Homo sapiens: one gene and its partners. The protein of the gene in region 4 interacts with the protein of the main gene of each other region in a pairwise test. Each region holds a gene or a part of one and is shown on either strand. Other genes may lie near its edges. The genes, in order: ALG8, NSG1, VAMP1 and CYB5R3.

Region 1 (7,025 bases), on a different chromosome or scaffold from region 4:
CAAATTACATCTGAATATTATTATGAAAATAGTACATATTTCAAACTCCTTGAAAGGGTCTCCCTGTGAGTCCCTGAATCACACTTTGAGAACTGCTGCTCTACAGTATTCCATTGTGTGAAAACACCACAATTTATTTAGCTATTCTGCTGTTTGTGGACATTTATCTCCACTTTTTACCTGTTGCAAATAGTTTTACTTTGCACATTTTTTTTTTTTTTTTGAGACGGAGTCTTGCTCTGTCGCCCAGGCTGGAGTGCAGTGGCGCGATCTCAGCTCACTGCAAGCTCCGCCTCCTGGGTTCATGCCATTCTCCTGCCTCAACCTCCTGAGTAGCTGGGACTACAGGCGCCCACCACCACACCCAGCTAATTTTTTATATTTTTACTAGAGATGGGGTTTCACCATGTTAGCCAGGATGGTCTTGATCTCCTGACCTCGTGATCCGCCTGCCTCAGCCTCCCAAAGTGCTGGAATTACAGGTGTGAGCCACCGCGCCCGGCCCCACTTTGCACATTCTTACAGTACGTGTCTTTTAGTGAGCATACTATGCATTTCTGTTGGGTATACGTACTTAGACTTGGGATGGATGGGTCATCAATTCAGTTCTGAGTGGAGATTTTGAAATATCTGTAGGAAATTCAAGTGAGATTGTTAACAGGAAGTTGGAGGTGTCTGTCTCCACAACTTAGTAAAGAAGCCAATGTTGCATATTGAAATTTGGGAGTAGGCCAGGCATGGTGGCTCATGCCTGTAATCCCAGCACTTTGGGAGGCCGAGGCAGGCTGATCACGAGGTCAGGAGATCAAGACCATCCTGGCCAACACAGTAAAACCCCATCTCTACTAAAATACAAAAAAAAAAATTAGCCAGGCGTGGTGCCGCGCACCTGTAGTCCCAGCTACTTGGGTGGCTGGGGCAGGGGAGTCGTTTGAACCTGGGAGACGGAGTTTGCAGTGAGCCAAGATCGCACTACTGCACTCCAGCCTGGCAACAGAGCGAGACTCCGTCTCCAAAAAAAAAAAAAAAAGTAATTTGGGAGTCATCATTATACAATTGACAGTGGAACCAGAAAGTTTGCATAAGATTGTCCAGAGCAGAATAAGTTGCGTAAAAAGGGGACCAAGAACTGAACCTAGGGGAATATCAACATGTCCCTGATGAATATAGGAAGGGAAAGCCATGACTGAGAAAGAAGGGTTGGCTGGAGGTAGGAGAAAGTTGTCATTGTGGAAAGGTTGTGTAAAATGTTGGAAAGGGTAAATTGGGCTTTGCTGTGGAACTCATTGTTCACTTTGGTGAGTGGATATTCAGCAAGAATGTATTGAGCTTGTCCATGCGTCAGGTACTGTTCTAAATGTGGAGGGGAGGTACAGCAGTGGACAAACAGGAAAAGATTTTTTCTAAAGATAGGTGATCCTTAGATATGTATAGTGATGGGAAGAGGGAGAATTTGGAGACATGGGAAAGGCAAAGCAAGGATCTTTTCCCACCTTCTCTGTCAGATGAACTCCTCATCCTTATGTCTTGGTATATGAGGCCTTTTTCAGGTAATGAATTTTGTTAGAATTGTTTGTGAGCAAGAGGAAGTCACTTCTGAGCAAAGGCCTGAGGGCCGCCTGTAAGAAAAAGTTTGGGCTAGGCCGGGCGTGGTGGCTCACGCCTGTAATCCCAGCACTTTGGGAGACTGAGGCAGGTGGATCACCTGAGGTCAGGAGTTTGAGACCAGCCTGGCCAACATGGCGAAACCCCACCTCTACTAAAAATTAGCCAGGATTGGTGGTACATGCCTGTAGTCTCAGCTGCTCGGGAGGCTGAGACAGGAGACTCGCGTGAACCCGGGGGGCGGCAGTTGCAGTGAGCTGAGATGGGTCCACTACACTCCAGCCTGGGTGACAGAAGGAGACTCCGCCTCAAAAAAAAAAAAAAAGAAAAGAAAAAGAGAAAGTCTGGGCTTCTTGTCAGCCCTTTAGGTAGTTCTGAGACCCTTTTCACTGACTTGTAGATTGCTCAACAACTTTCTAGAAGATCTGACCTCCAGATAAATGAGGTTTTACAGGATTATGTAATGTCTATTTGTGTCTCTATAGGACAGTGAGCTGTGACAGCTTAGGGAATGTCAGTCCATTTAAAAGCATAACTATGGGAATTAGAAATTGATAAATATTGCAAAATCTCATTTTATTTATCTAATTGTTTTGAGTAGCCATTCCACAGATTTTGAAGTACACCGAAACTGGCTTGCTATCACTCACAGTTTGCCAATATCACAGTGGTATTATGAGGTAAGTTTTAATTTTCACCTTTTTTTTTTTAAGATTCATCTATAAACTAGGTAAATATTACTGATATTAAAAATGTTTTCTGGCTGGGTGCGGTGGCTCACGCTTGTAATCCCAGCACTTTGGGAGGCCAAGGCGGGCAGATCATGAGGTCAGGGGTTGGAGACCAGCCTGGCCAACACAGTGAAACCCTGTCTCTACTAAAAATACAAAAATTAGCTGGGTGTGGTGGTGGGCACCTGTAATCCCAGCTACTCAGGAGCTGAGGCAGGAAAATCACTTGAACCTGGGAGGCGGAGGTTGCAGTGAGCCGAGATCGCGCCACTGCACTCCAGCCTGGGTGACAGAGTGAGACTCTGTCTCAAAAAAAAAAAAATTTTCTTGCAATCATAGATCTAATTAATCTTTATAAAAATTGTGGTCTCTTCTCAGTTCTGTCCTCTTGCACTACTAGGGAATCCCCTTACTTCAAAATGAGTTTCCCAGTCTATAAATTGGGAGGTATAATATCTACCACACTTTTTGAAAGAATAGTGGACTGGGAAAGAGGAAGAACTGGATTCTTAGGCCTGGCTCTGCCACTATCTAGTTACATAGAGAAAAGATACTTCATGTCTCTGGGCCTTAGTGTCTCATCTGGCACATGAGGATTTGGAGTGAATTATTTCTAAGATCCTGTCTGTTCCTAATGTTTTGTGATTTTGTGAGGAAAGGAATAATCAAATGTGATGTGTAGACATCAGGTAATATACAAACCATTCTCTCATATTGTTTATAAAAACTATGTCTGTATTTTTATTTCTTTTTCTTTTCCTTTTTTTTTTTTTTGAGACAGAGTCTCGCTCTTGTCACCCAGGCTGGAGTGCAGTGGCACAATCTCAGCTCACTGCAACCTCCGCCTCCCGGGTTCAAGCGATTCTCCTGCCTCGGCCTCCCAAGTAGCTGGGATTACAGGCGCCCGCCACCATGCCCCAGTTAATTTTTGTATTTTTAGTAAAGAGGGGGTTTCCCCATGTTGGCCAGGCTGGTCTCGAACTCCGGACCTCAGGTGATCCACCCACCTTGGCCTCCCAAACTGCTGGGATTACAGGCGTGAGCCACTGCACCCAGCTTGTATTTTTGTTTCTGGTATGAATTACTAAACTGTGTGTAATACTTTATGAAAAACAGACATTACTCCAGAAATTTCTTCTTTTTTTTTTGAGACGGAGTCTCGCTCTGTTGCCCAGGCTGGAGTGCAGTGGCGCGATCTCTGCTCACTGCAAGCTCCGCCTCCCAGGTTCACGCCATTCTCCTGCCTCAGCCTCCTGAGTAGCTGGGACTACAGGCGCCCGCCACCATGCCAGGCTAATTTTTTGTATTTTTAGTAGAGACGGGGTTTCACCATATTAGCCAGGATGGTCTCGATCTCCTGACCTTGTGATCTGCCCGCCTCGGCCTCCCAAAGTGCTGGGATTACAGGCGTGAGCCACTGCGCCCGGCCCAGAAATTTCTTGATGAAAAGCAGTACTCTGCTGACAGGGAGTTGGATTTTGTTTTGTTTTCTTTTCTTTTGAGACGAAGTCTCACTCTCACCCAGGCCGGAGTGCAATGGCACGATCTCGGCTGACTGGCGACCTCTGCCTCCTGGGTTCAAGTGATTCTCCTGCCTTTAGCCTCCTGAGTAAGCGATTCTCCTGCCTTAGCCTCCTGAGTAGCTGGGATTACAGGCACCCACTACCATGCCCAGGAAATTTTTTTTTTTTTTTTGTATTTTTAGTAGAGACAGGGTTTCACCACGTTGGTCAGGCTGGTTTTGAACTCCTGACCTCAGGTGATCCACCTGCCTCGGCCTTCCAAAGTGCTGGGATTACAGGTGTGAGCCACTATGCCCGGCCCAGGGAGTTTTTTTTAAGGCAAATTTTTTGCAAGTTTCCTATGAGTTTCGATACCATATATAGTATTTTATATGTATATATAAAATGGAATACCATAACCCATGAGGTAGATACTACTATCCCTGTTGTATAGGTGCAAAAAGTGAGACTTAGGCTGGGCGCGGTGGCTCACGCCTGTAATCCCAGCACTTTGGGAGGCCGAAGTGGGCGGATCACGAAGTCAGGAGATCGAGACCGTCCTGGCTAACATGGTGAAACCCCGTCTCTACTAAAAATACAAAAAATTAGCCGGGTGTGGTGGCGGGCTCCTGTAGTCCCAGCTACTCGGGAGGCTGAGGCAGGAGAATGGTGTGAACCCGGGAGGCGGAGCTTACAGTGAGCCAAGATCGCGCCACTGCACTCCAGCCTGGGTGACAGAGCAAGACTCCATCTCAAAAAAAAAAAGAAAAAGAAAACTGAGAGAGAAATCTAACAAAATATACTATTCTAAAGCTTGTATATTTTCATATGATTTCTGTTTTCATTTACTCATTAGCAACTGTTCCTTTAACTAGTGGTTATTTTATCCCAAGCAATATGTCAGGCACTTACTAAATGCTGAGGATACAAAATGATAAAGGATAGTTTCTATTCTCCAGGATCATATAACTTACTGAAACAAAATATAATAGCATTTGTGTATTATTTTGTTGTTTATAAATATATTTCATATGTATTATCTCATTTAATCTTCATAATACCTCATTTTACAAATAGGGAAATTGTGTCTCTAAGACAGAATTTGAACCTAAGTTAGTGAATTATTTGTTATTTAGATGAGTAGAACCATGTCATAACCAAGTTTATCATCTCCAGGTTTCAAATTAATTTCCTTTAAGTGTAGTTGACTCTATTTAAGGAAATTGAAGACCATGTTAAATAATTTACAAGACAGGTTTTAGTGTTCTGTTCAGTCTTACATAGGAATTGTTCTATTAATTTAGGGCATATTTTAAGTGCAACAGCATTTCACTGTGATTTTTGTTCGTTTGTTTTTAATTAAAAATAGAGACAGGGTTTTACCATGTTGCCCAGACTGGTCTTGAACTCCTGGGCTCAAGCGATCTGCCTGCCTTGTCCTCCCAAAGTGCTGGGGTTACAGGTGTGAGCTACCACGCCCAGCCTTATTGTGCTGTTTTAAAGACCAGAGAATGAAAAATTTTAAATCGTTGCACCATCTTTGTTTATTCAGTTATTTAGGATATGTCTGATCTTCTATTTTTATCACAGGCAACTTCAGAGTGGACGTTGGATTACCCCCCTTTCTTTGCATGGTTTGAGTATATCCTGTCACATGTTGCCAAATATTTTGATCAAGAAATGCTGAATGTCCATAATTTGAATTACTCCAGCTCAAGGACCTTACTTTTCCAGAGATTTTCCGTCATCTTTATGGATGTACTCTTTGTGTATGCTGTCCGTGAGTAAGTCTGGAGCATGTCATTTTGTATGGAAGGTATTGAAAAAATAGTACAGTGTTAAGTAGTATTAACTTACTCCCAATTTAGGAGGAACAAAGTTTATATGATAGCAAATGCTAAAACAATGAAAAATTGTATTGTGCTTTAAACTACATGTTTAAAGCACTCTAGCTGAATCTTGTGGAAGAAATGGGGATAAGGTGGAGTTACAAGGCAGAGGTAGAACAAGAGATTATGAATGTTGTGAAAAGAAGTAGTCCCAAGTATAGTTCTAGGGCCATTTCTCCCACCCAGAATAGCTCCATATGTTTTTCTTTGCTTCCTTGCAGCAGGCCGCCAGAGGCTTCCATCACCTACCCTATCTTAGGGTATGCACACAGTACATGCACAGTAGCGCACACGTATGGATTGTGCTAACCACCAAAGTCTGCTTTTACGGAGCTTTCATTCTAGTAAACTCAAGAAATTTCACTGAGTGCTTTTAGTTGTTTCCATATACTTTCCTTCATGAAGACTCTTTGTTATTTTAAGTTATGCTTATATTTTAAATTTTTATGTTTTACAACTTTTACTTATAAGTTAATTTTAAGTATTGAATACACATATATAGAATGTCTTGCACAGTGACTTCCAAGTACTAAGTTTCAGTTAATGTCAGTTTCCATTCTTTCCTAATTCTTTTTTTTCTTTTTTTTTTTTTTTTTTTTTCTTTTTTTTCCCTGAGATGGAATCTTGCTCTGTCGCCCAGGCTAGAGTATTGTGGCGCGATCTCGGCTCACTGCAACTGCCTCTCGGGTTCAAGCAGTTCTCCTGCCTCAGCCTCCCAAGTAGCTTGGATTACAGGTGCACACCACCATGGCAGGCTAATTTTTGTATTTTTAGTAGAGACAGGGTTTCACCATGTTGGCCAGGCTGGTCTTGAACTCCTGACCTCGTGATCCACCCGCCTCGGCCTCCCAAAGTGCTGGGATTACAGGCATGAGCCGCTGCACCGACCTCATTCTTTCCTAACTCTTAAGCTCGCTGGTGTGATTGTGACAGAACAGTGACTGGTGTTCATTCAGTGACCCTTGTCATAAATGGATCGTTTCTGTTTGTGAGGCCCTCTACACTGAACCCTTGCCCCACTCAGTAAAGAGTCCCTTGGGAATGTCTTTAACCCTTGCGCATTCTCATTGAATAATCCTGTTTGAAACCCTTCCTTTCAATCTGTTTATGACCTGGCAAGAGTTGAAAGGGAAGGTAATTTTTAATATACTCTTTTTAACTCAAAATGTTTGAATTCAAGCTTCCAGGGGAAGAGTATACAAGCACAAAGGGAGAGGAAATAGAATTCATTTCCATCTGCAAAGTAGAGGGAATAGTTAAAAAGATTGTTGAAAGGCCAGGCATAGTGTCTCATGCCT
Region 2 (7,025 bases), on a different chromosome or scaffold from region 4:
AACTCCTGACCTCAGGTGATCCACCCACCTCGGCCTCCCAAAGTGCTGAGATTACAGGCGTGAGCCACCACACTCAGCCAATAAACTTTTAAAATGTAAGTTTTTGACTCTTTTGTAATAACACTTAGCTTAAAGCTCAAACATCTTGCACAACTGTATATTATTTTTCTACATGTGCTTTTTCTATTAAAAAATTTTTTAATTCTTTTTTTACTTCCAACACATTTTTGTTAAAGCTAAGGACACAGACACACACATTAGCTAGGCCTGCACAGGGTCAGGATCCACAGTATCACCGCCTTCTGCCTCCACACCCTGTCCCACTGGAAGGTCTTCAGGAGCAGTGACAGGCACAGGGCTGTCATCTCTTAGGATAACAATGCCAGGCCAGGTGCAGTGGCTCACGCCTGTAATCCCAGCACTTTGGGAGGCCTAGGTGGGTGGATCACCTGAGGTCAGGAGTTCAAGACCAGTCTGGCCAACATGGTGAAACACCGTCTCTACTAAAAATACAAAAATTAGCCAGGCATGGTGGCGGGTGCCTGTAATCCCAGCTACTCAGGAGGCTGAGGCAGGAGAATCGCTTGAACCCAGAAGGCGGAGGTTGCAGTGAGCTGAGATCATGCCACTGCACTCCAGCCTGGGCAACAGAGGGAGACTCCGTCTAAAAACAAAACAAAACAAAACAAAACAAAACAAAACAAAACAAAACAAAACATTGCCTTCTTCCAGAATCTCTCTTGGAGGAGCTCCCTGAAGCTCTTTTAGAGTTAACTTTTTTTTTTTAATAACTAGGCATGCACTCTAAAATACTGATTAAAAAGTATAGTACGGTAACATAAACAAGTAACATACGCGTTTATTGTCACTGTCAAGTATTATGTTCTGTATGTAATTGTATGTGCAAGACGTTTATACAGCTGACAGTGCAGGGGGTGTGTGTATACCAGCACCTCCGCAAAGTGAGGAGTGTGTTGTGTTCCGTCTACACGGTGGCTGCGAGGTCACCAGGCGACAGGAGGTTTCAGCTCCGTGACAGTCTTATGGGGCCACCATGGCATGTGGTCCATCGTTGACCCAAATGCTGTTATGCCGCGTGTGGCTGTAAAACGCACTTGCTGGTTCCCCACAGGGAGGAGGGGGTGGCTAAAACTGCCTTCCCTATCCTGCAAGCCCAAGTCCCGCTGGATACCTGGCCTGGGTGGGAGATGACCCAGGAGATGAAGCCCCAGTCCTGTGTCCGGCTGCAGATGAGACTGGCGGCCACAATGGAAGGGGCCTGGCACCTTTTGTTTAAAAGGCGCTCCAGGTGATTCCCATCCACAGCCAGCCTTGGGAATTGAGAGTCCCCTGATAAGTTGTTCTGGAGTGATGTCCTGTGGGACTTTGGCATTTTCCACTAGCATCTAATGAGGGGGTGTCCTTTCCGGAGAAGGCACCTAGGAAGGCCAGGGAGCTGCTGGTCTGTATCCAGCTGCCCTTGGCCAAAGCTGGAGAAAGGAGAGGCGTGAGCTCATGAAGTCCCCTTGACCTCCTCCCTCCATATTTGTGCGTGTGTTTGTCACACACCAACGCTAGGCAGCTTGTGTGGGGCTTTTACACCTGTTGCTCACGGAATCCATACACTCGGTAGCTGTGGGCTCCCGTTATCCATACACTCAGTAGCTGGCTCTGAACTTCCCAGAGTCAGTGTGAGATGCTCATCTCCAGGGCTTGGCACTGCTGAGATTAAAATAAAGCAGGAGAAGCCAACTGTTTCTAGCACTGAGCACGTGCACAGGGAAGCCTGGCTTGGCAGCTGTCACTGGGTAGCTTGGGTTTGGGTTTCATTTAGGTTTTGTTTTTTGCTGATATGAGGACGCAGAGAGTCCTTACGCGATTAGCAGGAAAGGCTGGAATTCACGTTGTCCAGCCCAAGTCCCTTTTTCTCCTTGCACATCATGCTGTCCTTCAGGCTCCCGACATTCAGCTCTTCCTCCCTTGGGCAGGCATGTACATGGCACCCACCCCGTGCCAGCAGCTCTTGCTATTGTTCTAGGCGCTGGAACACAGCCGAGAGCCAGTCAGGTACAGCCCCCTGCCTTCACGAGGCTCTTACATTCTCAAATGAACGGTGAGGAAGTCAGTCGTACACTGAATGTGAAGGCTATAGACAGACAGGAAAGAGGGCCCAGGGGTTGGGCATGGGCATGTGGGCGGTAGTTTCTAGAAGGATGGTCCACATTGGAGGAGCGGGTCTCCAGGAGGTGAGCCAGGGAGCTTGCGGGTCTTGGGGGAGTGTGCCCAGCCAAGGAAAGCCCCCACCCTTTCACTCATGTTTTATTCAGCAAGCCCCGTCCACGCCCTAGGCTGGGGCTGGGAGAGTTTGAGTCTGTTTTGGAGGCTGAGAGGACACCAGGGCTTTACAACAAGCAGAAGCGGAGGGTGCGGGCTTCAGGGAACGAGGGCAGTGCTGGCCCTGACCCAGTGGGAAGGGGTTTGTGATGGTAGAGGAGCACAGAGGGAGCAGCGGGCAGTGGGGACGTGCTGGTGGGGGTGTGCTGGTGGGGGGCTAGCCACAGGCACAGGGAGGCGGCAGAGGATGAACCAGCTTACGGCCAGAGCGGGTGCATCCTGAGTGCCAGGCACAGGCCCCTGGAGGAGGGGGAAGTGATAGGGTGACCTCTTGGGTCACCTGGGGAGGCTGGAGATTGGAAGGGAGAGACGGGGCAGTGAGATGACCAAGGAGACTGCTGCAGTGGCTGAGGGAAGAGAAGACTGGGGCGCTGGGGATGGAGGGGAGACTGCAGACTGGAGAACTGATTTAATCTGGGAGGCAGAGGGGTAAAAGGAAAGGGCCTGGTGCAGAGCTAGTTACTGAGGGAGGCCGATGTCATGGAGAGGGAGCACGGGCAGGCCCAGGAGCTGGCCCTGAGCCGGAGAGAGGACAGCAGAGGACAGCTTCCTGGGGGCCGGAAGTCCCCACCGAAACTGGCTACTTACAAATAACTGAGGCCAGTGGCTTCACCAGCTGCCCTGGAGCTTCCTTCCTGGCTCATCCTCTCTGAGCCTGGAGCAGGTTCCCCACAGGGAGGAGGGGGTGGCTAAAACTGCCTTCCCTATCCTGCAAGCCCAAGTCCCGCTGGATACCTGGCCTGGGTGGGAGATGACCCAGGAGATGAAGCCCCAGTCCTGTGTCCGGCTGCAGATGAGACTGGCGGCCACAATGGAAGGGGCCTGGCACCTTTTGTTTAAAAGGCGCTCCAGGTGATTCCCATCCACAGCCAGCCTTGGGAATTGAGAGTCCCCTGATAAGTTGTTCTGGAGTGATGTCCTGTGGGACTTTGGCATTTTCCACTAGCATCTAATGAGGGGGTGTCCTTTCCGGAGAAGGCACCTAGGAAGGCCAGGGAGCTGCTGGTCTGTATCCAGCTGCCCTTGGCCGAAGCTGGAGAAAGGAGAGGCATGAGCTCATGAAGTCCCCTTGACCTCTTCCCTCCATATTTGTGCGTGTGTTTGTCACACACCAACGCTAGGCAGCTTGTGTGGGACTTTTACACCTGTTGCTCACAGAATGCATCCAGAAGCCCTTTGAGGTGGATGCTGTTATATCCCCATTTTACCAGTGGTTAGAGGGTGTACAGAGGCTCTTCGTGGAGCCCAAGGTCACGCCCTTCAGTTCACTTGGTACAGTCAGCATGTACTAAGTACCTCCTACTATGTGCACACTGGACTCGACACCTTGAGGGCAGGGACCTCAGAGCCCCAGGCAGTGGGGAGGGGACAGGCTTTTTCTGGACAGCCACTCCCAGTGGCCCCAAGCTGAGGCATATCGTGAGGAGGGTGAAAAAGGCAGACGTGGCCCGAGAGGACACTAGGTTTCTACCTCTGCCTTTAAAAAAAAACAACAACAACATGAAATTACTACATGTTTTATAAAAAAGTTTTAAACATAATGGGGAAAGTGCCCCAAATCCCACATTTTTATACTGGCTTTTCCCTTTATATTGGCCATTCTTTTTTTTCATGTAGACAGGTTACACGTTCTTGCTATGTTGCCCAGGCTGGTCTCGAACTCTTGGGTTTGCTCAAGTGATCCACCCTCAGCCTCCCAAAGTGCTGGGATTATAGGCATGAGCCATCGCACCCGGACCTTAGTGGCTACTCTTTTCCAGTGCTGACTGAGTGCTGGGTGCTGGGAACACACTTACGTAGCTACCTCAGTCCTCCCGTGCCCCACAAGACAGGTCCGTCATCAGCTTCACTTCACAGGTGAGGGAATGAGGCCCAGAGAAGTTGGGGAACCTCCCCAAGCTCCTCCAAGTGCAGGCCCAGCTGAGTCACGCTCCCCTCAAGGCACACACCCCACAGGTGAGGGTGGCTCTGTATGAGATGGGTATGGGGGGCGGCAGGAGCCTCTCAGAAAGCCTTCCCTGGCCCATGTGGGCTCACGGCAAGGCCTCTGCATTCTGCTTCCGTTGGGAAGCCCTTCACCCCCTGGGGTGCTCGCCACCATGGGCACCAAGGTGCCTCCCCAGCCTTGCCTTTGGGCAGCCACGTTGTCTGGGAGGCATCTGGGGACTCCATCTGTCCTTCTCCCTGGGCGGGGCACCTGTAGGGCAGGGCCGTTTCTGAGCCATCTCGTATGCCAGCCCTGAGCGGGGCCGCCACTCCACAGGTGTTGGCCGCATCAGGTCTTGCAGGACTCTGCTGGGTGCCGAGGTGGGAGGGAAGAGGGGAACCCTTGGTCCGTTTCCCTGAGGGATGACGAGCAGCAGATGGAGAGGACAGCGTGAAGGGGCGTGGCGGTGAGGCTGGAGGGGAGTTTGTCTGGCCTGCAGAGCCTCCTTCCTGATGCACGCGCTGCTGGTCTGAATGGGCTGTTTGTTCTGTAGCGTGTCAGGTGCTTCCCGACGTCCTGGTGGGACTGAGATCAAGACGCTGTTGATAAAAGGGCTGTACTTCAGTGGTGTCTTTTGGCTTTCTTTTCTGTCCACACTGTGACCTGGGGCACATCCTGGCTTCTTTACTTGAGCCACTGTGCATTGACTTGAGTCCTCAGCAACACGGTGGTGTGACTCATTGGCCGCATTTTATAGGTGAGGGACCTGAGATTGAGAGAGAAAACACTCCGCACGTGAACTCAGCTGGTACGGTGGGCCTGGCTCCAAAGCTTCCCTTCTCCTGTAGCGCCGCCCTCCTGCCAGTGGCAGCCCCTGAACACTGGATGCGGGGCAGTGTTGGTGAGAAGCACATTCCATTTGTCATTTCTCTTTTGAAAATAGCTCTTTGTTCACAAGGGCCTTGCAGGTATAAAGTATTCTCATCTTTAGACTTCAGGGTTCAATGAGCTGGTAACAGAGAATGGATTCCCCATGGGGGCTGGGTGGCATCAGGAGCTGATCCCTGTACACCTGCCTTAAGCCCGTGGAGGTGAGCCACTCACCTCAAGGACAGGCTGCAGCCACAGCTGCCAAAACAGGGAAAACGCCCCCGGCCCTGCCTGAACCACAGGGCCTGGCCTGCAGGGAATGGGGGTGTGGATTTGCTGCCAGAATCCGCTTCCTGATAAACCTCTGTAAGACCCAAGTGCTGTCTCGCACTCCCCCAACCCACGGCCCCTCCCTACCCCCTCGCCATCTTCCCAGCCCCTAGTCATGACCACCTAGTGGCTCTGTGTGCCTCTTCTGACTCCCGCCCCAAGGCCCCTCTCTGCTCTGGTTTCCTTTGCCTTGAGTGCTGCCCCTCCCTCATCTCACCTAGCTAAGGTCTGCTGAGAACCTAGCTCAAGGGAAGCTCTTCTCACTTCCCTTCCGTCCTCATTTGAATTGGTTGTTTTGGGATATTTCATAAGTTGTTGTTTTCCAATTGATTAAAAATGACAACTAGTGCAAGATCTTCAGTGAAGTAAGGCCTGCTGTCCCATTACACTGGCACCCTTGGAGCCCAAGTGCCCATCTGCCATGGCACTCACCAGCCAGTCTATTAAGAATAATCAAGGCCAGGCTTCCCCTGTGCTGTGCTCTCTCAGGGCAAGATCCATGCCCGTTTTTGCTCATCACTGTATCTATTCCTCCAAGCTCAGGGAAGGTGCTCAGTAACTGTTGGCTGCCAACTGGAGACACACTGGCACCCCCTCTTGCACCGACGCGTGCTCTCAGTGGCCTCTTGTCTTTCAGAACACCCAGTGCATCCCAGAAGGCTTGGAGAGCTACTACGCGGAGCAAGACTCCAGTGCCCGGGAGAAATTTTACACAGTCATAAACCACTACAACCTGGCCAAGCAGAGCATCACGCGCTCCGTATCGCCCTGGATGTCAGTTCTGTCAGAAGAGAAGCTGTCCGAGCAGGAGACTGAAGCGGCTGAGAAGTCAGCTTAGCGGGATGGGCAAGTTCCTTACAATGTGTCACTTGCAAATAACAAAGGGACTTTGAGGGACATTTCATTAAATATAATTACTGATACTTTAGAGGTTACTCATTTACGGTGCAATTGCTTCTGTTTGCTAATGCTGCTTTGCAAATAAAACTTGCTGCCGACCACCCACGGGCATAAAATCAAGTGCATTTCAGCATTGCCTAAAGAGCTCTGACACCACTTTTCATGTTAAGATCTTCATTTAGCTCCTTTACTGGGATTTATTGGATGCTGTAAAAAAATAAATTTACACTGGATATGCGAAGGGTTTGGATCTCAGATAAATGCATTTTGTGGAATTGATTTTCTGAACCGACCCTGCTGTCTGCAAACCTTCCTCCATAGCCATATCTAGAGTGATCTCTCGCTGTGCTAAGAGCAAGCCTACTTCGCATTTCTTCCTCGGCCATCAGCGGGTAACAGTGCTGACTGCTGCCAAGGTGCACTGTAGTAAGTAAGTGGCATAGAGAACGAGGAAAAAGACCCCCCCACCCCTCCCTGTGCTGACTCCTGAGTCGGGGTGGGACGGCCCTGCAATGTGGCAGGCTCGGTGTGGATTGACTACTCCCTCCCCTCTGACTCTGGCATCTTGGTAAGGAGGGAGGGGCACCACCCATCTGGGTGGAGA
Region 3 (7,314 bases), on a different chromosome or scaffold from region 4:
CAGGCCATGTCAGAAGCCTTCATAGCAGCCCCTCCCATCACAGGCCTGGAGGCCCAGGAGGAAAAAGTTATTTTGTGGGCCAGGCCCAGGGTCCCCATGCTGTGTGCAGCCTAGGGACTTAGTGCCCTGTGTCCCAGCCGCTCCCACTGTGGCTGAGAGGGGCCAATGCAGGGCTCGGGCCGTGGCTTCAGAGGGTGGAAGCCCCAAGCCTTGGCAGCTTCCACATGGTGTTGAGCCTGCAGATGCACAGAAGGCAAGAACTGAGGTTCGGGAACCTCCGTCTAGACTTCAGAAGATGTATGGAAACGCCTGGATGTCCAGGCAAAAGTTTGCTGCAAGGGCAGGGCCCTCATGGAGAACCTCTGCTAGTGTAGTACAGAAGGGACATGTGGGGTTGGAGCCCCCACACAGAGTCCCCACTGGAACACTGCCTAGTGGAGCTATGAGAAAAAGGTCACCATTCTCCAGACCCCAGAATGGTAGATCCACTGGTAGCTTGCACCGTGCGCCTGGAAAAGCCACAGACACTCAATGCCAGTCCGTGAAGGGAGCCAGGAGGGAGGCTGTACACTGTAATGTCTGTCAGCTCACCCCTTTTTATATTCAAGTTATTGGTTATGGTTATTGGTTTATATGCCCAGTTATTGGTTATGCTTCACACAAGATGAGGAAATCAGGGCTGCCATAAGGGCAGCTTGGAAAATCACCAAAGGCAAAGTCTATGTAGGTGGAGTGAGTCAGGACTGTTTGTTTGCTTTGTTTTTGGCAGAGAAAATGGGGGTTTCACTTAGATAGAATCTGGGGCCCAAAGCAATTACATTAGTTATGGAAACTGTTCCAAGAGCATAGACAGGAAGCAAAAATGCTAGAAATTGTCCTCAATGTGCATGCATTATAGACATTCTGTCCCTTCCTTTTCTGGATTTGACAGTCTCAGATGACTCCCTTGGTTACTTACATCCCAAAGAGAGATCTTGGTTTACTGTACTATACACACAGAGAATGTTCTCTCATTCTGTACCACTCAAAGTTAGTGTGTGGTCTTCAAGACAAACTCCTCTCCATGTCCCAAAACATGGAGGCTAAACTCACCTCCTAAAGAATTCCCAGAAGTATAACCTAAGTCATGAGATGTTCTCGGCCAAGGAAGCACCCACAGGCAGGGGGGAGATCTCTCAAATTTGATGGAGAATAGAAATTACAGTAAGAACTCCTCAAACAGAAGCAGAATCTCACCAAACATACTTCACAGGAGCAGTCCAAGAGTAAATGCAACAAAAATGAAACCACAAAGTCACCTAAAAGGAAATTATTTGACTAATTACAATAGAACTAATACCCAGAAGCTCATTCTCCTTGATTAAGTGAATTTCTTTTAGTCTAAAAAGATAGAGAATAACTCCTCAGAGAGGCTATGGTAGCAGATTACACCTGACTCATTCCCCATTTGAAGAATCACTTTTCCATTTCCCTCTAAGGTGCAAAGGAGGTAAAGCAAAGATAGACACAAAGTCATGGGAGCCACAAGACTCTTGTCCTGCCACTGAGCTAGCTAAGCAATCTAGCTCTCGACTTAAGGCAGAAAATTCAATGAGTAGGTAGCAGCCAGTGTTGGAAGCAGTCCAGGATGGTAGCACCAATGACAAGATTAAGGTCAGAGACCTCGTGATGCCCCGCTAGCCACCACGATTTTTCTGTTGCCTTCTGTTCATCCCACGTAGATACTATCTGGAAGCCCCCTCCCCAAAATGAAAACAACTGGAATTCTACGGCTTGCCCAAAATGCATAGAACACTCATATCTGGTTAAAACCATAGAAATCAAAAAGAAAAAGTGAAATGGCTATGAAGTATTTGCAAGGCCAATTTCACTTACTACTTGTTGGGAGTTGGAAACACTCAACAGTAAAATATCTAGGGATAATTACAACCCTTATGTAACACAAGTAAATCTTTCCCTTTTTTGTCACTTAGAGAAGCAACATAAATACATCTAGGACCAGGCCAGGGTAGTAATCAGAAAGAAAAATCTGTATTAGACATATTGAGGTCTTGACAGAGAAGTACTTCGTTTGTTTAGCCGTAGTTTTCCCTCAAGATCATGCGAAGGGGGTGATGTTGAAGACTGCTGGAGACTAAACTGTGTGTGTTGGAGGAAAGGGGGAAAGCTCAGCTCTCCCTATTTCTCCTCCAACTATTTGGTAAGACTCGGTGATAGAAAAACATCTCCTATACGAATGGCCTTGGTATGAACAGCCGCTTGGGATGACAGGCCACTATCCCACTACCCCTTGAGTCTTTCTGAGCTGCTCACCTGGTGCCAGAGAACTGGCAGATAAGTTTCTGCAGCTTTGCTCACTGCCATGAGGGGGGCTAGACATCACACTTTGGGTGAGGGGTAAACAAATCCAGAGATTGTAGGGCAACATAAGTTACCAACTGGCAGTTGCACCCATGACTGTCTTTCCTGAGGCGCTGAGTAGTGATTTAGCCAGATGACAGAAATACCTTTCGAGTCCCCTGCCCAGTTGTCTCCATCCACCACCCCCAGCCCCCGCCCTCTCCGAGTCTCCACTATACCAAAACCAGAATGAGGCGCCACTCAGACGAGAGGAGAGGGTGCAATGATTGTGGGACCCCTGCGCCCCTGCCCCGCCCGTGGGGTGCTAGCTGTGGCTGGTGCGAGAATGGGGTGCTGGCCCCCCTCCCTGGGGGTGGCCCGGTCCGGAAGCGGCGCGCGGTGGTAGTTCCCCGCGTTGCTGCAGCTGCTGCATTGCGCCATTTTCCGTCCCGCAGAATCGGGAGCTTGGGGCGAGAGTTGTCAAGGAGGTGCCGAGCCCCCACACCAGAGTCAACTCACATTTTTCTGACAGAGAGAGTGAGGGTCTGTTCCTCTCCGGAGGCTGCGGCGAGACACCCGGTGAGGGACGCTGCGGCTGAAGTGGACGGAACTGCCAAGCTCCGCCTCGCGCCGACTACCCCGCGGTCTAGCTGCGCTGGAACTTACTGCAGCTGCCGCGCCGGCCTCCGCCTTTATTAGTGCTGACCACGCCTCCCGGATAACGGTGACAACCCCGCGGCCCAATCCATGCCCAGGACGGTCGCCCAGCGCTACAGGCCTAGCCCGCCCCGCCCCTGCCAATTGCCAGTCACAACTCTCCTCTCATCCGACTCCGGAAAGGAGCGGTTGCTGTGAGGATCCTTCAGTGATCAATGCGACCATAGTTTGCGCTCCAGTCTGGCGGAGGGACGGGGCGGGGTGGAGATGAGGTCTGTCCCTTCGGAGGGCGCTTCAGCAGTTTGTTAGGCATTTGTGGTGCCTCCCAACCAATCGCTAGGCAGTTACTGAAGACCGTGCCCGCCCCTGCCCCACCCCGCGCCGGGACTCGCGCATTCAGCTGGAGGCGGCGGCTTCCTGGTGCGCGCCCAGCCCTGGTGCCCTGCTCTGGCCCTCGCTCCGCACCACCGCCCCGCCTCTAACTAACGCTCTGAGAGGGTGCAGGAGCCTCGAGACACAGCCACAAGCTCCTGGTGCCAGATACCGGATGCGGGGTTCCGTCCCACCAAAGCAAGCACGAAGCTTTCGTTCATTCGTTTCTTTCAACATAGCCTTCCTAAATTGAACTCCCTCCCAAACCTGCTCCAGTCGAGGTTACCACATCGACTCAGTTGCCCAGACCAGAAACGTGGAAACCATCCTAGATTTCCTCCCCTTCACCTTTACCTCTCCCCCAGTAATCTGCCAAATCGAGTTGATTTTTCCTTCTTGGCATTCCAGTGATTATCTCCCCTCTGCTCACTATTATCCCTTTCCTGGACTCCATCAGTTGGAAAATTCACCATTATTTTATGTCCCGCTAAGAAAAAAGGTTACAAGGCCGGGCGCAGTGGCTCACACCTGTAATCCCAGCACTTTGGGAGGCCGAGTCAGGCAGATTACCTGAGATCAGGAGTTCGAGACCAGCCTGGCCAACATGGCGAAACCTCTGTCTCTACTAAAAATACAAAACAGCCAGGCATGGTGGCGGGCGCCTGTAATCCCAGCTACTCGTGAGGCTGAGATAAGAGAATCGCTTGAAGCCGGGAGCCGACGGTTGCAGTGAGCCGAGATCACGCCACTGCACTCCAGCCTGGGCAACAGAGCAAGACCCTGTTTCAAAAAAAAAAAGAAAAAAGGTTGCAAATTATCTGTGACAAATGCTTTCCTTACCACTTAGCATTTTTGTTTTACATGTATTGAAAATATGGGTTTATATACATACCGATTTCTATATTTCACTCTTGTGCATGCATAAAAAGGGAAATAGAAAACAATAACATGGTAACTATCCCTAAAACTTCACAGAGACTGATTGTTAATGATTCACTTTTTTGACTCAGTCTTGGATGTCCACTAATTTCCACGCAATGTAGTCCTCTGTGCATTTCATAAGGGCTTTGGTGATGCAGCATTTCCTAAGAGTGTTCCTCTCCAGGCTCTAGAGTTTTCTTCCAAGCCTCAGACACCCATTTGGCAAGCTTTGATGCTCATGAGCAGGTATGACAAATATAGTTTGACTGCTGTCTGACTAATAGCTAAAGTGAAACATCCCAATTAGAAGATATTGAAATGCAAAAAAACAAACAAACAAGCACACACAAAAAACCCAAGTGCCTCCTAAGATCAATGATACATCATTCTGCTTCCAGTCTTGCCATCCTTTACATCTATTCTCTAAAAAGTCCACCAAAGTTATCTATCCAAATGTCACAAGTCTTCTTAAGGAAACAATTGCACTTGGAAACATAATGCATTCATCATATGTGTTTATCCCATTCTCCTCCTGAAACCACATCAAAATGGCAAGTTAGGGGGAAAAATGACAATTTGGGAAAATTTGCAAAAAATTATAAGCCCCCAAAGACAAAAAGAATGGGGCCGGGCGTGGTGGCTCACTCCCGTAGTCCCAGCTATTTGGGGGGCTGAGGCGGAAGGACAGCTTGAGCCCAGATGTTCCGGTTGCAGTGAGCCGAGATCACGCCACTGCACTCCCACCTGGGTGACAAAATGAGACCCTATCTCCAAAAGAAAAGAAAAAGGGCCAGGCGCAGTAACTCACACCTGTAATCCCAGCAATGTGGGAGGCCAAGGAGGGCGGATCACTTGAAGCCAGGAGTTCAAGACCAACCTGGCTAACGCAGCAAAATCCCGTCTCTACTAAAAATACAAAAATTAGCTGGGCATGGACGCCTGTAGTCCCAGCTACTCGGGAGACTGAGGCAGGAGGATCACTTGAACCCGGGAGGCGGAGGCTGCAGTAAGCCGAGATCTTGCCACTGCACTCCAACCTGGGCAACAGAATGAGACTGTCTCAAAAAAAAAAAAAAAAAGAAAGAAAGAAAGAAAAAGAAAAGAAAAAAGAATGGGAGGAAATATTTCTGGCAGCATGAATGCCTATTTATTCCCACCAACTTTCCCCTGAAAAAAAACTTAAAATCATTGAATGGTGACTCACGCCTATAATCCCAGCATTTTGGGAGGCCAAAGCAGGAGGATCACTTGAGCCCAGGAGTTCAAGACTAGCCTGGACAACATGGTGAAATCCTGTCTCTACAAGAAATAGATACAAAAAAATATAGCTGGGTATTGTGGCACACACCTGTAGTTCCAACTACTTGGGAGGCTGAGGTGGGAGGATTACCTGAGCCTGAGGAGGTCAAGAAAGCAGTGAGCCATGATCACACCATTGCACTCCAACCTGGGCAACAGAGTGAGACCCTGTCTCAAAAAAACGGGGTTGAGGGGGTGGCATTTTTTAAACTTTTTTTTTTTTTTTTTGAGACGGAGTCTCCCTCTGTCGCCCACGCTGGAGTGCAGTGGCGCTATCTCGGTTCACTGCAAGCCCCACCTCCTGGGTTCACGCCATTCTCCTGCCTCAGCCTCCTGAGTAGCTGGGACTACAGGCACCCGCCACCACGCCCGGCTAATTTTTTGTATTTTTAGTAGAGACAGGGTTTCACAGTGTTAGCCAGGATGGTCTCGATCTCCTGACCTCATGATCCACCCGCCTCGGCTTCCCAAAGTGCTGGGATTACAGGCGTGAGCCACCGCGCCCGGCCTTAAACTTTTTATTTTAAAGTAATTATAGATTCATATAAGGTGGCCAAAAAAAAAAAATACAATACAGGGAGGTTCCCCTAAACCCCTTTACCCAGTTCCCCCAACAGTAACATCTTGTATAAATACAGTTTAAAATTATTAAAATATTAAAACCAGGAAATTATCATTAGCAAAATCCAGAGTTTATTCAAATTTCACCGATTTTCCAAACTGGCATGTACCACCAAACACTTCTTTTTGTGTTCGTGTGTGTTTGAGTGGTTTTATGCAATTGTATCATGTGTAGATTTGTGTAACCACAACCACAGTTAGGATACAGCATTTTCACATTACTGCAAGGCTCCCATGTGCTACCCCTTTATATTCCAACCCACCGCCATCCCTAAACCTTAGCAACACTAATTTGTTCTCCATCTCTGTAACTTTATTTCAAGAGCCTTATGTAAATGTAGTCATGCTTTTTTCTATATCACGTAACCTTTCAAGATTGGCTTTTTTCATTCATCCAAGTTATTGTGTGTATCATTACTTTTTCAACCATCCAAGTTATTGTGTGTATCATTAGTTTTCACCACTGATTAATATTCCGTGGTACATTTAACCATTTACCTGCTGAAGGACATTTGGAGTGATTTCAGCACTGGGCTATTACAAATAAAGTTGCTGTGAACTTTCATACAGGTTTTGTGTGAACATAAATTCTCATTTCTCTGGGATAAATGCCTGAGTGCAATGCTTGGGCAGTAAGGTAATTGCATCTCTAGTTTTATAAGAAACTGCCTTTGCCTGTGTTGCCCAGGCTGGTCTTAAACTCCTGAGCTCAAGCAATTCTCCCACTTCAGCTTCCCAAGTAGCTAGGACTATAGGCATCATGCCCAGCTGTATTTTTCTTATTTTAACCATTCTAATATGTGTTCAGTGCTATCATTGTGGTTTTAATTCTTATTTCACTGATGGCTAATGATATCAAATATCTTTTAAAGTGTTTGCCTTGTATATATTATCCTATTTGATGAAATGTTGGTTCATGTCTTTTGGCCATTTTCTTTTTTTTTTTATTGATCATTCTTGGGTGTTTCTCGCAGAGGGGAATTTGGCAGGGTCATAGGACAATAGTGGAGGGAAGGTCAGCAGATAAACAAGTGAACAAAGGTCTCTGGTTTTCCTAGGCAGAGGACCCTGCGGCCTTCCGCAGTGTTTGTGTCCCTGGGTACT
Region 4 (7,025 bases):
CCGGGCGTAGTGGCGGGCGCCTGTAGTCCCAGCTACTTGGGAGGCTGAGGCAGGAGAATGGCGTGAACCCGGGAGGCGGAGCTTGCAGTGAGCCGAGATCCCGCCACTGCACTCCAGCCTGGGCGACAGAGCGAGACTCCGTCTCAAAAAAAAAAAAAAAAAAATACAAAAACTAGCTGGGTGTGGTGGTGGGCACTTTTAGTCCCAGCTACTCGGGAGGCTGAGGCAGGAGAATCGCTTGAACCCGAGAGGTGGAGGTTGTAGTGAGCTGAGATCATGCCACTCCAGCCTGGGTGACAAAGGGAGACTCCGTCTCAAAAAAAAAAAAAAAAGAAAAAAAAAATGCTAGGTCTTCCCCAGCCCTTTCCTGACCCCACCCCTTGTGTTGCAGGTCACAGACCCTCGAGGAGCTAGAGAAGGGTTAATATTAGCAAAGTTTTACTTTTTTTTTTTCTGCTCATAAATGACTCTGAAAAAGCCAATACGCAAGAGGCTAACACAACTGTAGTCTAAAGGCAACGTCGAGGTCACTGATATGTCCCTCAGACAAGAGGCACTGCTCAGAATCCCCCTGTGCTGGGGGTGAGGGAAGGAGGGGACGGTTTAGGACAGAGGAATAAATACATGTGGTTGTGGGAGTTCTGCCATCAGGGATGGTGGCCCCAGCCCAGGACCCCAAAACCCTGAGGCGGTGCAGTGGGCTGCCAACCCCCCAGCTCGGGGTTCCCCAAGGCTGCCTCAGTGTTTGGATGGGCTGGAAGGAAATGCTGAGGTTCTGGGAGGGCCCCATGGCCAGCCCCCTCTTCCCACTCTAGCCAGAGGAGAGCCAAGCTCCCGGCTGGCCAGGGCCCTGGGGTAGGGAGCAGTGCCCCCAAGAGGGCTTTCTGGTGTCAATGTCTCATGCAGCGTCAGGTGGTGAGGCCTGGGCCTGGCCCTGAGGCGGGAGTGGGGGTGACAGGCGAGGCTGGGGTGGGCCCTGGCACCTGCAGCTTTGGGCTGCCCATGTGTGTCTGCTGACATCCCGACTATGGTCCACGGCCGGGAATGGTGGGCAGACGGGGCTGCTGGCAGCCCTCAGCCTTATAGTGTGTGTGGGGGGTGGACGAGGGGTCATGAGGACAGGGATGGGGCTGGGCGTCTCTGGTAAGGACCAGTAAGTGCCAGGCAGGACGTACTCTGAAGGCTCAGCCGTGGCCCATCTGGGACACAGCCCTGCTCCCGAAGGGGCTCCAGGGGAACTGCTCAGCCAGGTGATTCACCAGGGCACGGGCAGGCCAGGCTGAACCCGGGGCCCCAGTGTGCGATGTGGGGAGGTGACTGGGTGAGCGTGAACAGGGCGTGGGGTGCGCGGGGCGGGTGGCCGTGTGACCGTGCCCGGCCCTCAGAAGACGAAGCAGCGCTCCGTGGGGTGGCCCACGTGGTCCAGGTTGGGAAGGCAGGCGTACTGGATCATGGGTGGGGGGCCACACATCAGCACCAGCGGCTCCTCCTCTGGGGGTGGAAGGTGGTCCCGGATCATCTCCTCATTCACGAAGCCCTGGCCGTAGTCCCAGGCTGTGGGGTGAGAGACCAGGTAAGCTGACGTGTGGCTGTGTGGTCACCAACCTGCTGACCGACCAACCCTAGGCGGTGAATTCCTTAAATGCTGAAGAATGGAGAGGCTGATCCCAGCAAACTGTCACCAGGACCCCCTGCCCCCAACCCTGACTCAAGCCTATGGCCTCAGGCCCTGCAGCCTGAAACCAGTGTACAAAGCCCATCATGGTTCCCCTGACTGCACTTTACAGTTTGCAAAGCCTTTTGCTTCCATTTGGCCTCCGGGGTGTCCCTTGGAACAACCCAGTGGGTGGACAGGGCGGGGAATATGAATCCCATTTTACAGATGTGGCAACTGAGGCCCAGAGGACCCAGAGTTGAGTTGCTCAAGATCACACAATGAGGCAGGGACACGACTGAGATGTACCTTCCAGGATCCAGAGGTCCCCAGGCTGGTGCTCTGCCCCAGGCTGCTCAGGGTGACAGTCTCTAACTGCCCCCACCTCCATGAGCCCACTGTGACTCCCCAAGAATGTCGGCCCATGAGGAACTGAGTCTCATCCACAGCTGTGTGTCCTGCCCCCTCGAGCCCTGAGCGCCCACGATGATATGGCTGGTCTCTATCCTTAGTAACCAGAAACAACCACCCCACAGCCCTCAACACCAAGAGAAAAGCTGCTGAAGCCTCAGGCCAGGAGGGCTGGCACTGGCTGACACAGACACCCTGCCTAGATGGCCCAAGTTTACAGCATACACTCCACGCTGTGAAGGTCCTGACGGGGAGGGGCCAAAGCAGTCCCGCTTGCCCTGGAACCAGGAAGAGTCTACTGTGCTGAGCAAGGGGGTCCTCTTTATCTCATGGACTCCATGAGCTAAGTCACTGACCACATTTCCCTTTTCACCTTGGCTGCTGGGAAGCCTGGAGTGATACGTGTGGCCCATTCACAGCAAGCGTACATTATAGTCCGTTTTTGTACAAATCCCAGTACTGATTCCATTCATTTTATAGCCCTGCACTTGTTTTTCTTTCACTCCCACTTTCCATTTGTGCCACTCTGACTCACCAGATGAGTCTTTGTAAGCCTCCTAAAATCCCTCTGGAACAAGGCGAGGCACAGAAAATAGTTTTATAGCTGGGCAATGGATCTGAAGTGGATCTGAAAGTACCTTGTAAAAACTGCATGGGCATAAACTGCTAGTGTACAAAATGTGCAGGTATGTAAGACACCTTTCAATTTCACAGCGATTTCTTTTTAGTGTGTGTGTGTGTGTGTGTGTGTGTGTGTGTGTGTTTTTAAGAGACAGGAATTGGCTATGTTGCCCCAGCTGGCAGGCAGTGGCTATTCACAGGTGTGATCATAATGCCCTCCAGCCTGGAGCTCCTGGGCTCATGTGATCCTCTTGCCTTAGCTTTGAATAGCTGGGACTACAGGTGCATGCCACCGTGCATGGCTTAATGTATTTTTCCCTGTACCTGTCCTGAAAGTGGCTCTGTGGGGGAAATACTCACTGCCCCTGCCTGGAGTCCTTGGGGCTCTCCTCATCCTTCGCTTAGCTACGGTACAGCCAGACTGGCCTGTTACCACTTTCTTTCTCAACCTCTGGAATTTCAGCTTACATTTAATGCTACAGCAGTACCTCAACTAATCTTGAATTGTGGGTCACAGTGGCAACAAATGTACACGAAAAATGCTAGGAGATCACCCAACTATTCCTCTCATTGGCAGGTAACTGTCCCGTGGTGGTGGTGCAGGTGCTGCTGCCTGTTGCCACCAGGGGTCAGCACTGGCCCCTCCCTGGGGGACCAGGCCTCGCTCTGGCCACAGGGCAGGGGCTCCTGCACGCACCAGGGATCTGGATCACTCATCTGGAATTGGGATGGGGCTAAACCCTGCCTCGCAGCAAGCTGGCCCCGCCCATGCCATTAGAAACTGCAGTCAGAAAGGAGCAAAGCAGCCTATCACTTCCTCCCTTTAGACTGACACATGGGTACAGGATAAAACGCTCTTTTCTTTGAGACGGAGTCTCGCTCTATCGCCAGGCTGGAGTGCAGTGGCACCATCTCGGCTCATTGCAACCTCTGCCTCCCGGGTTCAAGCCATTCTCCTGCCTCAGCCTCCGAGTAGCTGGGACTACAGGCACGCGACACACGCCCAGCTAATTTTTGTATTTTTAGTAGAGACAGAGTTTCACCATGTTGGCCAGGATGGTCTCGATCTCTTGACCTCATGATCTGCCTGCCTCGGCCTCCCAAAGTGCTGGGATTACAGACGTGAGCCACCGCGCCCGGCCTGCTCCTTTCGTTAGTAGAAGAGAAACAGCAGCTAGACTCCCAGAGCCAGTGCCCTGGCTGACCTCCGCTCCAGCCGCTGCCTGGCTCTGCTTGGCCCCCCACATCACAGGAACCCCGCCACCATAACCGCGCTATAATTTACTAAGAAACCTGCTCCCATTAGTCCTCTGCCTCCCCCACTGGAAGGTCAGCTGCGGGGTCAGGTTGGCTTCCTGAGCATACCAGGTGGAGCAGCCGACCTGGAGGGGGTGGGCTGACCCAGGACAGCAGGTCCAGCCAGAGGCCGGACACGGTGACAACCCACACATCCACCACCCCCTCCAGGCCTGGGTCTCTCAGCCTGGAGGCCTGGAACCCAAGCTGGTCATCTGAGAAGGGCGGCTGCTCCCTCAGGGATGGGCCCAGGTGACCCAGCTCCTAGGTGCTAGCCAGGTGGTGCAAGTCCCAGAGCCCATGTGCTCCTTTCTGGGAGGAGCAGAGGGTGGTGTGGACAGAGCTCCCTCATCAGTAGAGGGCATGCACCCCCTGACATGGATCATCAGCAGAGGGTGTGCGCCCCCCACCATGGATTAGTCCTGAGGAAACTGTGGGGCCGTAGGAGGTGCCGGAGGCAAAGCAGGGGCAGATGGCAGGACATGAGACCCCAAACTGGTGCTCACACGGGTATTCAAAAATGGTGCTTCCAACACTTAGAAATTTCCCAGAAAATGCAGGTCCCCAGCTTCTCTTGAAAAGCAGAGGCCCTGGCCACACAGGGCTATACTCCACAGCGGGATTGCCCACGGCGGATGGGGCTGTGTCCTCCGGACCAGGCAGATGCGCTCCAATTTACCGCAGTTGCCGCCACTCCCTAGTCTCTCAGCCCTGAAGCTAAACATCACCAGAATGTTTCCTGGGGAAGGCTGAGCTCTGCTTTTCTTACAGCAAAGAAGAAATTGAGATATTACTTATACCTACATCTCTATCTGAAGCCGAAAAGGGAAGGGCGCTTTAACTCCCAGAGGCAACCTCACTGCAAGTGGTGGAGGTGGGGCGGCCCTCACTCGCTGCCTCCAGCTTGGCTCTCCCACAACTCCCTTGGCAAGCAGCTCAGCCACTGGACAGGTGGAACAAGGGTAACCCCAACGTCGGCCCAGCCCACTCCCCAGGGCTGACAATGGGAGAGAAGATGGCCTTGGTGTAACTCGGCAGCACCTGAGAGTATGCACGCTGGGATGTGGAAGCAGCAGCCGCCACCGCTGCCCCGAGACTTGCCCCGAAGTGAGCCCCGCCCAGGGAGGGGACGCTGGCCTTCTCTGCCCAGCTGGGCAGTGCAGTGCGCCCGGGAAAGGACTCTGCCTCTGGAGGCGAGGACCTGGGTTTCAGGCCGGGCTGTGGTGGTTTCCGGCTGTGTGGCTTCAGTGAGCCCTTGTTCCTCATCTGTGAGACGGGGCCACACCACCTGCCTCCCACAGGGCCATAGTGAGTGCCAGATGTCGTCCAAAGGCTCAACGCCACAAACAGCTGGGCAAAGGTGAACTGTGGGCTGGCACCTCCCACCCACCCAGTGAGGGGCCTCCCTCACTCACCTTCAGGGGCTCTGTCCAGCGTGTACCAGAGCTTGAAGCGTGCAGAATGTTTGTTCCTGAGTTCCTCCAGCTCAGGTCGCAGCAGGATGTCCTTCTCGGTCTGCAGGGGACAGGGCCAGGCAGTCAGGAAGGATGGGTGGCAGACTGCCCCTGGAGACACTCAACAGAGACGCGCCTCGTCATCGCGCCCGCCTGCGGGCCACACGCTTGCGGAGCTTTCAGGAGGGGACTCGGCCAGAGATCACCCTGGCACCCCTCTCTCCTTGTCTAGCCTAAGGAGCCCCTCAAAGCTGCTGCTGAAGGGGCGAAGGCGTTCGCTAGAAACTCAGTGTGTCAACTGCTTCTGCTGTTGTGAGGAAATGGGCTCGATGTCCCGAGAGTGGGAAAAATGGAAAAAACTAAAGGCGGCCAAGCTGCGCGACAGCAAAAAGGGAAGAGACGGGAAATGTGCCAAGATACTCCAGGGGGTCAGCCCGGGAGCGGGTGTAACACATACAATAAGCAATGGCCCCGTGAGAAGGCTCAGGATTTGCACCCTCAGCCCTCCGGCAAGTCTTTTTGCGTTCTGGGATCTCATTCAGGTTGTACCTCCAGAAACCAGGAAGTACAGACACCACTCCCCACCCAACCTGGCCCCCTCGGGCCTTGCCCACACCCATCCTCCTGGCTGGCCTGCGGCTCCCCCACCCCCACCCGGCTGTCACAGAGCCCTACAGAACTCAGTCCAGCGTCATCCCTTCCAGGAAAGCTTCCTGGACCCTCCAGGGGCTATCAGGGATCTCCCCCTGAATCCCCCACCCGACTCCCCGCCCCCCACCCCCGTTCCACCTCTGATCACATCACAGGCTGCTGCCCAGCGTTTGCAGGTCACACAGGGACAGAAGGGGCTCCTTAGGTCAGTGTGCAGTGTCCCTGACCTCAGGGAACTCAAAGAAACCAGGGGCCAAAGAGCGCTGCCACCCAGAAAGGGCTGCCCACTAACAAATCGCTACTGAGCTCCCAGGCTGGGCAAGGGCGGGGTGGACTCTCCCCAGGAGGCAGCCACAGACGTGACTCCTCTGTTCCCAGGGCTGGGGAACTGCACCCACCCTCCGCGTAGCCCAAGGGTGCCTGAATACGGGAATCACCAGCTCCTTGGTGCTCCCCTCCAGCAGATGAGCTGTGTGAGGGGCATAAGCCTCAACACATCCCAGGGAACACGGGGTGTTGAACAGTTTTTCCAGTTTCTGAGGGTGGGAGGCTGAGGGCCCTTTCTGCCCTAATGGGGTGAGGACAGGGACAGGGACAGGCTTTGGGCTAGATGAACTCAAGGAAAAAAATACAGAAAATATGGAAGAAAAAGTACCTGAAACCCTTCAGAAATAATGACTGTTAGGATTTTTGTGTGCATCTTTTCACTTTTCTTTTTCTATTAACTATGTGTAACTTTCTTTTTAGGCCAGGCATGGTGGCTCATGCCTGTAATCTCAGCACTTTGGGAGGCTGAGGTGGGTGGATCACTTGAGCTCATGAGTTCGAGACCAGCCTGGCCAACATGGTGAAACCCCGTCTCTACTAAAAATATAAAGAATTAGCTGGATGTGGTGGCGGGCACCTGTAATCGCAGCTACTCAGGTAGCTGAGGCAGG

What was found.
Region 1: the proteins of CYB5R3 (region 4) and ALG8 interact in binary tests that used the Homo sapiens proteins (3 or more experiments, as listed by UniProt).
Region 2: the proteins of CYB5R3 (region 4) and NSG1 interact in binary tests that used the Homo sapiens proteins (3 or more experiments, as listed by UniProt).
Region 3: the proteins of CYB5R3 (region 4) and VAMP1 interact in binary tests that used the Homo sapiens proteins (3 or more experiments, as listed by UniProt).

What each region holds. Positions count from the first base shown.
Region 1 is NC_000011.10:78,122,618-78,129,642, reverse strand, and holds part of ALG8 (dolichyl pyrophosphate Glc1Man9GlcNAc2 alpha-1,3-glucosyltransferase), read left to right. Parts: intron 1-2,203; coding exon of another isoform or gene 2,204-2,206; coding exon 2,207-2,285; intron 2,286-5,428; coding exon 5,429-5,622; intron 5,623-7,025.
Region 2 is NC_000004.12:4,411,077-4,418,101, forward strand, and holds part of NSG1 (neuronal vesicle trafficking-associated protein 1), read left to right. Parts: intron 1-6,158; coding exon 6,159-6,359; 3' UTR 6,360-7,025.
Region 3 is NC_000012.12:6,467,671-6,474,984, forward strand, and holds the start of VAMP1 (vesicle-associated membrane protein 1), read right to left. Parts: upstream 3,008-7,314; 5' UTR 2,862-3,007; coding exon 2,860-2,861; exon of another isoform or gene 2,796-2,859; intron 1-2,795. UniProt on the Homo sapiens protein: Involved in the targeting and/or fusion of transport vesicles to their target membrane.
Region 4 is NC_000022.11:42,618,392-42,625,416, forward strand, and holds part of CYB5R3 (NADH-cytochrome b5 reductase 3), read right to left. Parts: intron 5,498-7,025; coding exon 5,398-5,497; intron 1,555-5,397; coding exon 1,382-1,554; 3' UTR 1-1,381. UniProt on the Homo sapiens protein: Catalyzes the reduction of two molecules of cytochrome b5 using NADH as the electron donor.